Homo sapiens: one gene and its partners. The protein of the gene in region 2 interacts with the protein of the main gene of each other region in a pairwise test. Each region holds a gene or a part of one and is shown on either strand. Other genes may lie near its edges. The genes, in order: SERBP1, SERPINH1 and DNASE1L1.

Evidence for each region.
Region 1: the proteins of SERPINH1 (region 2) and SERBP1 interact in binary tests that used the Homo sapiens proteins (3 or more experiments, as listed by UniProt).
Region 3: the proteins of SERPINH1 (region 2) and DNASE1L1 interact in binary tests that used the Homo sapiens proteins (3 or more experiments, as listed by UniProt).

The regions. Positions count from the first base shown.
Region 1 is NC_000001.11:67,428,800-67,432,618, reverse strand, and holds the start of SERBP1 (SERPINE1 mRNA-binding protein 1), read left to right. Parts: upstream 1-2,216; 5' UTR 2,217-2,318; coding exon 2,319-2,631; intron 2,632-3,819. UniProt on the Homo sapiens protein: Ribosome-binding protein that promotes ribosome hibernation, a process during which ribosomes are stabilized in an inactive state and preserved from proteasomal degradation.
Region 2 is NC_000011.10:75,565,253-75,568,852, forward strand, and holds part of SERPINH1 (serpin H1 isoform 1 precursor), read left to right. Parts: intron 1-1,063; 5' UTR 1,064-1,097; coding exon 1,098-1,719; intron 1,720-3,478; coding exon 3,479-3,577; intron 3,578-3,600.
Region 3 is NC_000023.11:154,402,655-154,406,473, reverse strand, and holds part of DNASE1L1 (deoxyribonuclease-1-like 1 precursor), read left to right. Parts: intron 1-818; 5' UTR 819-905; coding exon 906-1,040; intron 1,041-1,390; coding exon 1,391-1,479; intron 1,480-1,559; coding exon 1,560-1,646; intron 1,647-2,851; coding exon 2,852-2,952; intron 2,953-3,092; coding exon 3,093-3,205; intron 3,206-3,283; coding exon 3,284-3,532; intron 3,533-3,632; coding exon 3,633-3,767; 3' UTR 3,768-3,819.

The DNA of each region.
Region 1 (3,819 bases), on a different chromosome or scaffold from region 2:
ATAACATTTTTATGTAATCTTAATAGGTAAATTCTCTGAAGAGCATAAATGAACCTCATAAATTCATAGCCAGAAAATTCCTCTATGTGTAGCTTATTTTCAAATATTCTTATTGTAATAATGCTTGGTGGTTACGAAGCTCTGTTTGAGCAAACCAGAAATCTGTAATGGAGGAGAAAAATGAATAACAACAGGCCTGCCCCACCCCCCAGATTGTGGCAGGAGTAGTTAACTTACTTAAGCTCTTTGTTTTCATTTTCCTAATCTTAAAACAGGAGCAATAACTTTTTTTTTGCGGGGGGGAGGTATGGAGTAATAACTTTCTTATAGAGTTGATGTAAGGTTTAAAGGAGATCACGTATGTAAAGTGCACCAAGCACACACTAAAACATCACGTTTTAGTATGAATATTGTTACTGTGGCCGTGGCCAGAAAGAGTTAAGAAGAGGAGCTTTCACAGATGTCTCAAAGATGCAGGCAGTCTCAGAGACGCAACAGCCCGTGAAGAGAGAAAATCTGTCAAAATGTGGAGATCTTCTACATTGCACTTGAGCTATTTCAAAAAGGTGGGAAGAGTATGGTCAAAAGCTCCTTGTCTTGGTAGGTGCCACAGAACCAGAGCCTGTGGAAGGGGGGATGAGATAGGGGGTGTGTTTGAGGTTGGGCGTTGTGGGCAGGGTGCAGGACTGAGGCAGCAGGGAAATAAGTGAGGAATAGGGGAGGATTGAGAAACAAGAAAACCAGGAGGCTTGCTGCCCCATGTATGTAATATGACTCGTGTCTTCTATTTTCCCTGCTAAGGAATTGATTTAAAATCTGCTCGGAAATTGATGATTACATTCCGCCATGTTACATATCCTGACACGCAACAATGTTTAAATTATATCGGAAATTTAAAAATTGGACTGCTTTCTATCAGGGCAGTCTGAATTAAAGAGCTGATGTCCAGTCTCCTAGTGGAGATAGAATACTGGGCTAATGCCTGTCACTAGCACTTACAGAGGTGTGAATTTGGTAAATCATTTCATCTCTGAAGTGGTTTCAACATTTGTGAAAAGAGGCAAACTATTTGCCTAACAAAATGTTGAGTTCAAGGTTATTCATAGCTCCTACCAAATAAGCGATGCATTTGCTACTTTGTGTTAATGGAAAAGGACTTAAAAATTATGATATACTTAAACCCGGTGCTACCAAATGTGCTTAAATACGCATTCAAATTGTATTCTTTTAATGAATTTTAATATTCTCAACTAGTATCAATGCTTTGTCATTATTAAGTGTTGACTTCAATATTTCCCTCCCCTCACCGCAACTCCTAGCACACATGCACTCGAAATGTTCTCAAATGATATGTATTGAGCGCATGTGACTAACAACACAGCCACCTAAGCCCTGACTTGCCGGACACGAACGGACGATTAATTGGAATAATTGTAACAGGGTTTCTATAAACAGTGCTTCCTGGAGGCTTGCCCCGCGTCTAGCGCTGCACCGTCAGGAGTTAACCACTCCTACGACACCCGCCGCCACACGGTGAGAAGCCCGGGAAAGACGCGCCACGCTCCCATGTGATAGTTTCACTTGTCTTTTTGGTTAGTTCTGCTACCCTAGTTCATGTCCCCGCGAGAGGAAACGTATTCCCCCTCACATTAGACAGAAGAGCCTCGATTCACCGTGGAGGCTGACGGAGGGCCACTCCAGCAACTGAGCAGCTCGGACTTGGCACAGGCAGGGTCCAGCCTACCCGCGGCCGGCGCGGCGCCTCAGCAACACCCCCTCCCCCGGAAGTTTGTGCGTCTCAGATGTAAGGTCTGGGAGTCACCTTGACCCCCCTGGAGCGGTGGGGAAAGTTAGCCCTGAGCCCGAGGGGGCGTGAGTGAAACCAAAGAGCACTTTCGCGAGTCAGTTACGCCGTCACGGTTTTTTGGTTTCAAGGTAGCTGAAGACCTAGAGAGTTTAAGGGTGGCCAGAGCAGGTGGCAGGACTCCGCCCACCACCACGCTTCCCTTCCTTCAGCCCGCACGCTTCACTCCCCTCATGGGGTCTCGCCTCTCAGGCGCGCGCGAAGAGTTGTCGCGCGGTGCGTCCTGGGAATTGTAGTCCCGACGCGGAGAGTCGCCTCAGGAGAAATGACTCTGGCCTACATACCCCACAGTGCCTTGCGGCGCAGGCCGCTCCCGGATGTGTGCCTGGCGCCGGAAGAGAAGACGGCCCCCCTCTCTCGGCCCGGCCATCTTGTGGGAAGAGCTGAAGCAGGCGCTCTTGGCTCGGCGCGGCCCGCTGCAATCCGTGGAGGAACGCGCCGCCGAGCCACCATCATGCCTGGGCACTTACAGGAAGGCTTCGGCTGCGTGGTCACCAACCGATTCGACCAGTTATTTGACGACGAATCGGACCCCTTCGAGGTGCTGAAGGCAGCAGAGAACAAGAAAAAAGAAGCCGGCGGGGGCGGCGTTGGGGGCCCTGGGGCCAAGAGCGCAGCTCAGGCCGCGGCCCAGACCAACTCCAACGCGGCAGGCAAACAGCTGCGCAAGGAGTCCCAGAAAGACCGCAAGAACCCGCTGCCCCCCAGCGTTGGCGTGGTTGACAAGAAAGAGGAGACGCAGCCGCCCGTGGCGCTTAAGAAAGAAGGTAAAGCAGGGGCAGAATGTGGGGGAGACTGGGATGGAGGGAAGGAGCGAGGGGGCTGCCGGCTGCCACTTGTTTCTGGAGCTCCGAGGGTCCGCGGGAGACTTTGCCGCCTATATCCTCACGTTTCTTCACGCGACAAAAGTCCGGTCCTGCGAAGGTGCCAGGAGCGTGGTAGCCCCAAGTTCAAGCCACCGCCGGCGAGGTTCTCGGAGCCATCCCCTTCCCGCCTCAGGTTGTGAGCAGAGGAGCGTGGTCGGAGATGAGCTGCTCCTCGAGCGCGCTCGAGGTCCTGGGAGGCTGTTGCCTTCCCGCCGGATTCCTTGGCGGGTGAGCGCATGGACTGAGGTGCGGGGAAGCCGGCCCCTCACCGAAGCTTTCCGTAGTTACGGAGGAGCTTGGGGGTCCATCGCTGCTTACTGCGCAGAGCTGCTCCTTTGAGGTGCTGTTGTTTCAGGCTCCTGTCCTGCCGTCTTGTCCCACGACGGCGCGGAGTATCCCCGCTGAAAAGCAGGGGGTCGTTCCAGGCCATCAGACGTGTGGAGTAAGCTGCAGGTTGGGGTGCCGCATGTCCTTTATTTGTTTCTCTTCCACCTCTCAACTGTTAGGACTTTCTCATAACTTGCTGGGGTGAGTTGAGCCGTTGGGAAATGGAGGAGTTTGGCCACACTCGATTAACCAGGAGCGGGAATTATGAATGAAGACTGGTGATTGCAGGACATCCCGAGGAACGTCCTCGAGTCACGATCCTCTCTCTCGACTCCCCAAACTGAATCTTTCACGTGGTGGGGTCTGGGCCTCGTGGGTGAAGTGAGTGCAGAGGCTGTCACAGCGTTAGTCGCAGCAGAGCTCTTTAGAGTTCGCAGTTTTTTTTTTCCACCACATGTGCGTGAAGCATGGTCAGAGTTTCACTGGCGGTTAATAGTTGTTTCTAGGGCACTGTGAGTTTCACAGGATTGTCTTGATTTTTGCATTCGCTTTACCAGTTTGTTGCGGATGAAAAAAAAGAGCAAGCAGTTTGGAGATAAGAACGTGCATGATCAATAGCAAGCAGGTGTTGGACCTAAGGTCTGAATCTTTAAAGCTGCATTTATATGTTGAAAGTTGAAATTACCCCTTCCTGCCACGTGCTTCTCTGAAAGGAGTTGTTTCTCTTTAGCTTTAGTTGAATTCTGTAACAGTGAACTAATT
Region 2 (3,600 bases):
TGGCTGTCAGATTGGAGGGCAGAATGGAATCTGATGTGGCTCCAGCTTCTTTGAAGGCTGAGTGCACATCTGGCCAGCTGCTGGTGATGGGGAAGGGGGTCACTGCTCTATTGAGCTATGTGTGACTCACCCTTTTCCCTAGTATCCTGTCCTTGTGCTATGTCAGGAAGCCTCCTCCCCAGCCCCACCGAGTCTTCAAAGGAGTTGGTCCCCCAGGAGCTTTTGTCCTGGGGATTTCCCATCCGCACTGGGAGCACTGTGGGTAGATGGGCATTCCAAGTTCCTGCCCAGACAGAAGCCATGGGCATGGAGACCTGGACCTTTCAGCTTGGAAAAGGGAGACTGAGGCTGAGTGGACACAGGACACACACACACACACTCTCAGGGTCACCCTTGGGGCAGCAAAGTGGAGCATCTTGGCTCCCCATTTAATGAGTGACCCAACTGGTGACTCATTAACATCCCAGAGCAGAATGAAAGGCATGGGGGCGGGGCAGCCCTCCGGCTCTGTCCCTCATCCCTTGCCCAGGCATCTGGGTTTCCTGCAGATTCTCAGCTCAGCTGCTGCTTTTTCTCACTGGAAAAGGGCTCCCAGGGCTATGTGAGATCAGGGCTGACCACTCTATAAACTGATGAGGACCCCAGGTCTGGCCAAGTGACCCTGTTTTACCTTCGTTCAGGAAGAGCTGAGGCCTACTGTGTACTAGGCACGGGAGATATAGTGGCAACCAGATTGGCTAGCTTTTCTGTCCTGGAGGCCACAGCCTACTTAGGAGCAGAAATAGTTATGAAATAAACACACAAATAAGTGGAAGTGTTGGCTGGCCGATGCAGGAAATCAATAAGGTGGTCTGGTGGTGACTTGCTGGGAATGCTTCTTTGAGTAGGGAGGTAACAGAGGCCTCTGAGAGGCTGGCAGCTCTGAGTCAAGTCTGGGATTCCTGGACTGTGGGCTCTCTTGCCCCCATCTCCAGGGGACTTGTGGCAGCCAGAGAGCTGAGGGTGGTTGTTGGGGAGGAAGGCCTTGGGCTTCAAGACCACCCTGTCTGTGCAATCCTCACAGGCCCACCGTGGTGCACGCAAACCACTTCCTGGCCATGCGCTCCCTCCTGCTTCTCAGCGCCTTCTGCCTCCTGGAGGCGGCCCTGGCCGCCGAGGTGAAGAAACCTGCAGCCGCAGCAGCTCCTGGCACTGCGGAGAAGTTGAGCCCCAAGGCGGCCACGCTTGCCGAGCGCAGCGCCGGCCTGGCCTTCAGCTTGTACCAGGCCATGGCCAAGGACCAGGCAGTGGAGAACATCCTGGTGTCACCCGTGGTGGTGGCCTCGTCGCTAGGGCTCGTGTCGCTGGGCGGCAAGGCGACCACGGCGTCGCAGGCCAAGGCAGTGCTGAGCGCCGAGCAGCTGCGCGACGAGGAGGTGCACGCCGGCCTGGGCGAGCTGCTGCGCTCACTCAGCAACTCCACGGCGCGCAACGTGACCTGGAAGCTGGGCAGCCGACTGTACGGACCCAGCTCAGTGAGCTTCGCTGATGACTTCGTGCGCAGCAGCAAGCAGCACTACAACTGCGAGCACTCCAAGATCAACTTCCGCGACAAGCGCAGCGCGCTGCAGTCCATCAACGAGTGGGCCGCGCAGACCACCGACGGCAAGCTGCCCGAGGTCACCAAGGACGTGGAGCGCACGGACGGCGCCCTGCTAGTCAACGCCATGTTCTTCAAGCGTGAGTCGGGGGCGCGTTCAGGGGTCCTCCTCCTCCTCCCAGGACCCCCTGCAAGAGTTAGGACGACATTCCGTGCGCTCCATTCTTCACTGCCTCTCATTTATGCTGTGACAACCCAGGGAGGCAGGACTGTCACTCAGCTTTTTGTACAGACTGGAAACTAGATTCAGAGACAGGTAGCAGCGTGTAAAGGAATGGTTCAGGGAGCGGAGGCCCCAGAGGGACTCCATGGAATGTATTCCGACCGAATTTCGTCAAAGTGCTCGTCCTTGTGTATCTTGGAATGAATAACATTTAATAATCCATTCTGCCTCAGTAGTGAGCTAGAGAAAGAACTCAAATCCTTTTTTTAAAATTATTTTTATTTTGAGATGGAGTCTCACTCTGTCACCCAGGCTGGAGTGCAATGGCACGATCTCAGCTCACTGCAGCCTTGGCCTCCGGGCTTCAAGCAATTCTCCTGCCTCAGCCTCCTGAGTAGCTGGGGTTACAGGTGCCTACCACCACACCCAGCTAATTTTTGTATTTTTACTAGAGACGGGGTTTTGCCATGTTGGCCAGGCTGGTCTCAAACTTTTGGTCTCAAGTGATCTGCCCGCCTCGGCCTCCCAAAGTGCTGGGATTACAGGTGCGAGCCACCATGTGCGGCCAAGACCCAGAATCCTTAAAGCAACCTTGGGGGCAGGCAGTGTTACCTTCATTTCACAGTGAGGAAACTGAGGCTCAGCAAGGAGGAAGCAGAGCCAGGCCTCAGGCCCAGATGCCTCTGTCTTCAGTTGAAGATTAGATGTAGGGTTAATAAATATTTTTGAGTACCTCCATAGACAACACTATTCTCACAGTTTGCTGTGAGAATGAAGTAACCCTCGTTTTACAAATGAGGCCAAGCTAGGAGAGCTGAGGTCTCCCCGAGTCAGTGGCTGAGCTTGGATTGGAACACAGGTCTGGCTGTGAGCAAGGGCAGGGTTCAGGCCACTCTCAGACATTTTTTGTTGTTATTTTCTGGTCATGGAGACAGAACTTGCAGAGGAAAACGAAGGGTGGGCTGAGCACAGTAGCTCATGCCTGTAATCCTAGCACTTTGGGAGGCCAAGGTGGGTGGATCACATGAGCCCAGGAATTTGAGACCAGCCTGGGTAAGATGGCGAAACCCCATGTCTACAAAAAATTAGCCAGGCGTGGTGGCGCATGCTGGTAGTCCCAGCTACTCTGGAGGCTGAGGTGGGAGGATCGCTGGAGCCTGGGAATTCAAGACTGCAGTGTGTCATGATTGTACCACTGCACTCCAGCTGTAGGATGGAGTGGGACGGACCTTGTCTCAAAAAGAAAAAGATAAAAAAAAAATTAAGGGTGGTCATGGGGCACTCCCTGCCCAGGGCACAGCTGTCCCCCAGGTACCAGGGAGGGTAGAAAGCCCACCTCAGAGCATGTTTCCAAAATATCTGACAAGTGCTAGAGCCGGGGGTGGCCATAGAGGTGGCTGACCTGAGGGCGGAATTAATTCTCTATCATATGGGAGCAGCAGGCACTGACTGTAGGGAACCGCATCCTCAGATGGCATGTCCTGGGGCCAAGACCCCTTCCCAAAGCTGGGAACATAGACTCTGTGGGCTGGGTGCTCTATAGCTGGGCCCTGAAGAATGGAGCAAAGACCTGTGGCAAGGATAAATCAAGGTCTGCAGCCGGGGGTGGCTGTGGGCTGTGATTGTGTTTGGGGGCGGCCATGTGTCTCTGACCCTGTGTTTTGCCCCAACTACAGCACACTGGGATGAGAAATTCCACCACAAGATGGTGGACAACCGTGGCTTCATGGTGACTCGGTCCTATACCGTGGGTGTCATGATGATGCACCGGACAGGTAGGTGCTGTGAGGAGCAGGGT
Region 3 (3,819 bases), on a different chromosome or scaffold from region 2:
CGCTTGAACCTGGGAGGCAGAGGTTGCAGTAAGCCGAGATCGCACCATTGCACTCCAGCCCGGGCAGCAAGAGCGAAACTCCGTCTCAAAAAAAAAAAAAAAAAACCAGATGGATGGATGAATGAATGAATGAACAAAATGTGGTCTACCCAGATGCCCAGACAATGGAATATGATTCAGCCATGAAAAGGAAAGAAATTCTACAGCCGGGTGCGGTGGCTCACGCCTGTAATCCCAGCATTTTGGGAGGCCGAGGCGGGCAGATCACGAGGTCAGGAGATCAAGACCATTCTGGCTAACATGGTGAAACCCCATCTCTACTAAAAATACAAAAAATTAGCCGGGCGTGTGGCAGGCACCTGTAGTCCCAGCTACTCGGGAGGCTGAGGCAGGAGAATGGCGTGAACCCAGGAGGCGGAGCTTGCAGTGAGCCGCGTTTGCGCCACTGCACTCCAGCCTGGGCGACAGAGTGAGACTCCGTCTCAAAAAAAAAAAAAAAATTCTGACATATGCTCCAACATGAATGACCCTTGAGGACATTTTGCTCAGTGAAATGAGCCAGTCACAAAAAGACAAATACTGTAGGATTTCACTTTTTTTTGAGACGGAGTCTTATTGTCGCCCAGGCTGGAGTGCAGTGGTGCGATCTTGGCTTGATCTTCACAGAGCAAGACTCTGTCTCAAAAACAATTTTTTTTTTTGGAGACAGAGTCTCACTCTGTCACCCAGGCTGGAGTGCAGTGGTATGATCTCGGGAGGTCACTGGGAGGCTGGTGCTGGGCAGCAGCTAGTGCCACTTTCTCTGTTCCATATTTCAGCGCTTCCAGAGCCAGAACTGAGCCCAGTGAGAGCGCACCCTGGGGCAGCCTGGATTCCTGGGGTGTCCCCGGCAGCCACACACAGCCATGCACTACCCAACTGCACTCCTCTTCCTCATCCTGGCCAATGGGGCCCAGGCCTTTCGCATCTGCGCCTTCAATGCCCAGCGGCTGACACTGGCCAAGGTGGCCAGGGAGCAGGTGATGGACACCTTAGTTCGGGTAAGTTCATCACTTCAGGGAAGCCGTGCCCCTAACCACCATGAGCCAAAGCCCCCATCCCTGCCTGACCAGGGGTATGTTCTAGAGAAGAGGGGAGAAGAAGAGGTGTGGCACGGAGATGCAGCGCAGGCGCTTGCCTGCTGCTGGCCTCAGTCTCCTCCTCTGTGAAACAGGTGACATGTGGGTGGGATGAGTCTTTTCCTGGGGCATTTCCAGTCCCACTGCTTTCTGTGGGCTGCAGTCAGTGAGCCTTAACACTCTGGGCCACAACAGTGCCAGTCCCCTGGGCCCACTGCCTCCTCTCAGGGCAGTTGGCACTGAGTCAGGCTGGCCTTCCTGATGTCCCACAGATACTGGCTCGCTGTGACATCATGGTGCTGCAGGAGGTGGTGGACTCTTCCGGCAGCGCCATCCCGCTCCTGCTTCGAGAACTCAATCGGTGAGGAAGATTCTGTGGGTCTAATCAGGGGCACACCCAGAGGCTTGAGGCCCTGACCCCGCCTCCCCTTTTCTTGGCAGATTTGATGGCTCTGGGCCCTACAGCACCCTGAGCAGCCCCCAGCTGGGGCGCAGCACCTACATGGAGACGTATGTGTACTTCTATCGGTGAGCACGGAGCTGGCAGCGCAGCAGGGTGGGGGGCGGTCCTTGGCCCTAATGTGAGGTAGGCTCATTAGTCCCCGGGGCCACAGGCCCCCCATCCTGGGACAGCCTCACCTGCTTTGCATGCTTTCTCTTCTCAACACCTTTTATTCTGGGCTCTTCCCATCCTCGACCCCCGCCAGAGTGTCCATAGAGCAGGAGGCCTTCCTTCTATAAGCACAAATGTGGGGTCCCTCCTCCTCTCTCCTGTGGGAGCTGCTGGGGCTCAGGGTGTGGCTGGCCCCCTCTATGAAAGTGGCCAGCAAGGGCTGCAGCTCCTGGGAAGAGGCTCCGTGGGGACCACTTATGGGCCTTGGGTAGACCCGATCTTCTAAGTCCCTGGGAGGACAGGCTGGCAGGGAGCCCTTTGGAGTCAGGATCCAGAGGGCAAGGGAGGCTGCAGGGAAGGAGAACTGATTCTCTATATAAATAAAATGATATGACATCTGGTATGCGCTCCAAAATTACTGGGTAGGCAGGGTACAGTGGCTCATGCCTGTAATCCCAACGCTTTGGGAGGCTGAAGCAGCAGGATCACTTGAACCCAAGAGTTCAAGGCTGCAGTGAGCTATGATTGTGCCAGTGCACTGCAGCCTGAGCAACAGAGTGAGACCATGTCTCAAAAAAAAAAAAAAAAAAAAAAAGAATGACATCAAAGTGTCCAAATGTCAAAATGTACTATACCCAGTCCGTGGAATATTATTCAGCCAGAAAGAGGAATGAAGCACAGACGTGCCACAGCATATGGACGAACGCAGAAAACATTGATGAGCTGATTTCATTCATATGAAATATCCAGAATAGGCAAATGTACAAGATAGAGAACAGATTAATGGTTGCAGGGGCTGGGGGGAGGGGAGAATGGAGAGTAACTGGTAATGGATGTTATGTTTTTATTAGGAGTAATGGATACCAATGTTTTAAAATTGATTGTAGAAATAGTTGCACAGCCTTATGAATGTACAAAAGAACCGTGTTGTATACTTGAAGCAGGTGAATTTTATGGCATATGAATTATGCCTGATTTTTGAAAGTTCTAGAGACAGGTTGGGAGGGCTGTGCCCACATTGCCGCTGTTAGTGGAGGGCCCCTCCCTGAGCGCCGTTTGGCACTTGCAAGCCAAAATCAAAGACGTGGGGCCACTGCTGCCCATCCCTTTGTCCTCCCAGGTCACACAAAACACAGGTCCTGAGTTCCTACGTGTACAACGATGAGGATGACGTCTTTGCCCGGGAGCCATTTGTGGCCCAGTTCTCTTTGCCCAGCAATGGTAGGAAGGGAAGGGTGGGCTTGGTATGTGGGAGCAGAAGGGGAGTTCTGGCTGGCTCCACTGGGGGCTTCCTCACCCAGACGGGCTAGGGGGAGAAGGTCCAGGAGTGGATGGCAGCCCTCGGTCCCTGGGCCTTGCAGTCCTTCCCAGCCTGGTGTTGGTCCCGCTGCACACCACTCCTAAGGCCGTAGAGAAGGAGCTGAACGCCCTCTACGATGTGTTTCTGGAGGTCTCCCAGCACTGGCAGAGCAAGGTAGGCCTGGGCAGTTTGTACAGGAGGGACAAGGATAGGGTGGCCCAGCGGCCAGCCTGATGGCTGCTGTGTCTCTAGGACGTGATCCTGCTTGGGGACTTCAATGCTGACTGCGCTTCACTGACCAAAAAGCGCCTGGACAAGCTGGAGCTGCGGACTGAGCCAGGCTTCCACTGGGTGATTGCCGATGGGGAGGACACCACAGTGCGGGCCAGCACCCACTGCACCTATGACCGCGTCGTGCTGCACGGGGAGCGCTGCCGGAGTCTGCTGCACACTGCGGCTGCCTTTGACTTCCCCACGAGCTTCCAGCTCACCGAGGAGGAGGTGAAGGGATGGGGCTGGCATGAGGAGGGAGGGCAGCAGCAGGGTCACAGGGAAGCCCCTCGGCCCCGGGCACTGACACTGCCCCACCACCCATTCCCAGGCCCTCAACATCAGTGACCACTACCCCGTGGAGGTGGAGCTGAAGCTGAGCCAGGCGCACAGCGTCCAGCCTCTCAGCCTCACTGTTCTGTTGCTGCTATCACTCCTGTCCCCTCAGCTGTGCCCTGCTGCCTGAGCGTCCCCCTACCCCCCCAGGGCCTGCTGCCTTTTGGGACTTAAACCCCAGC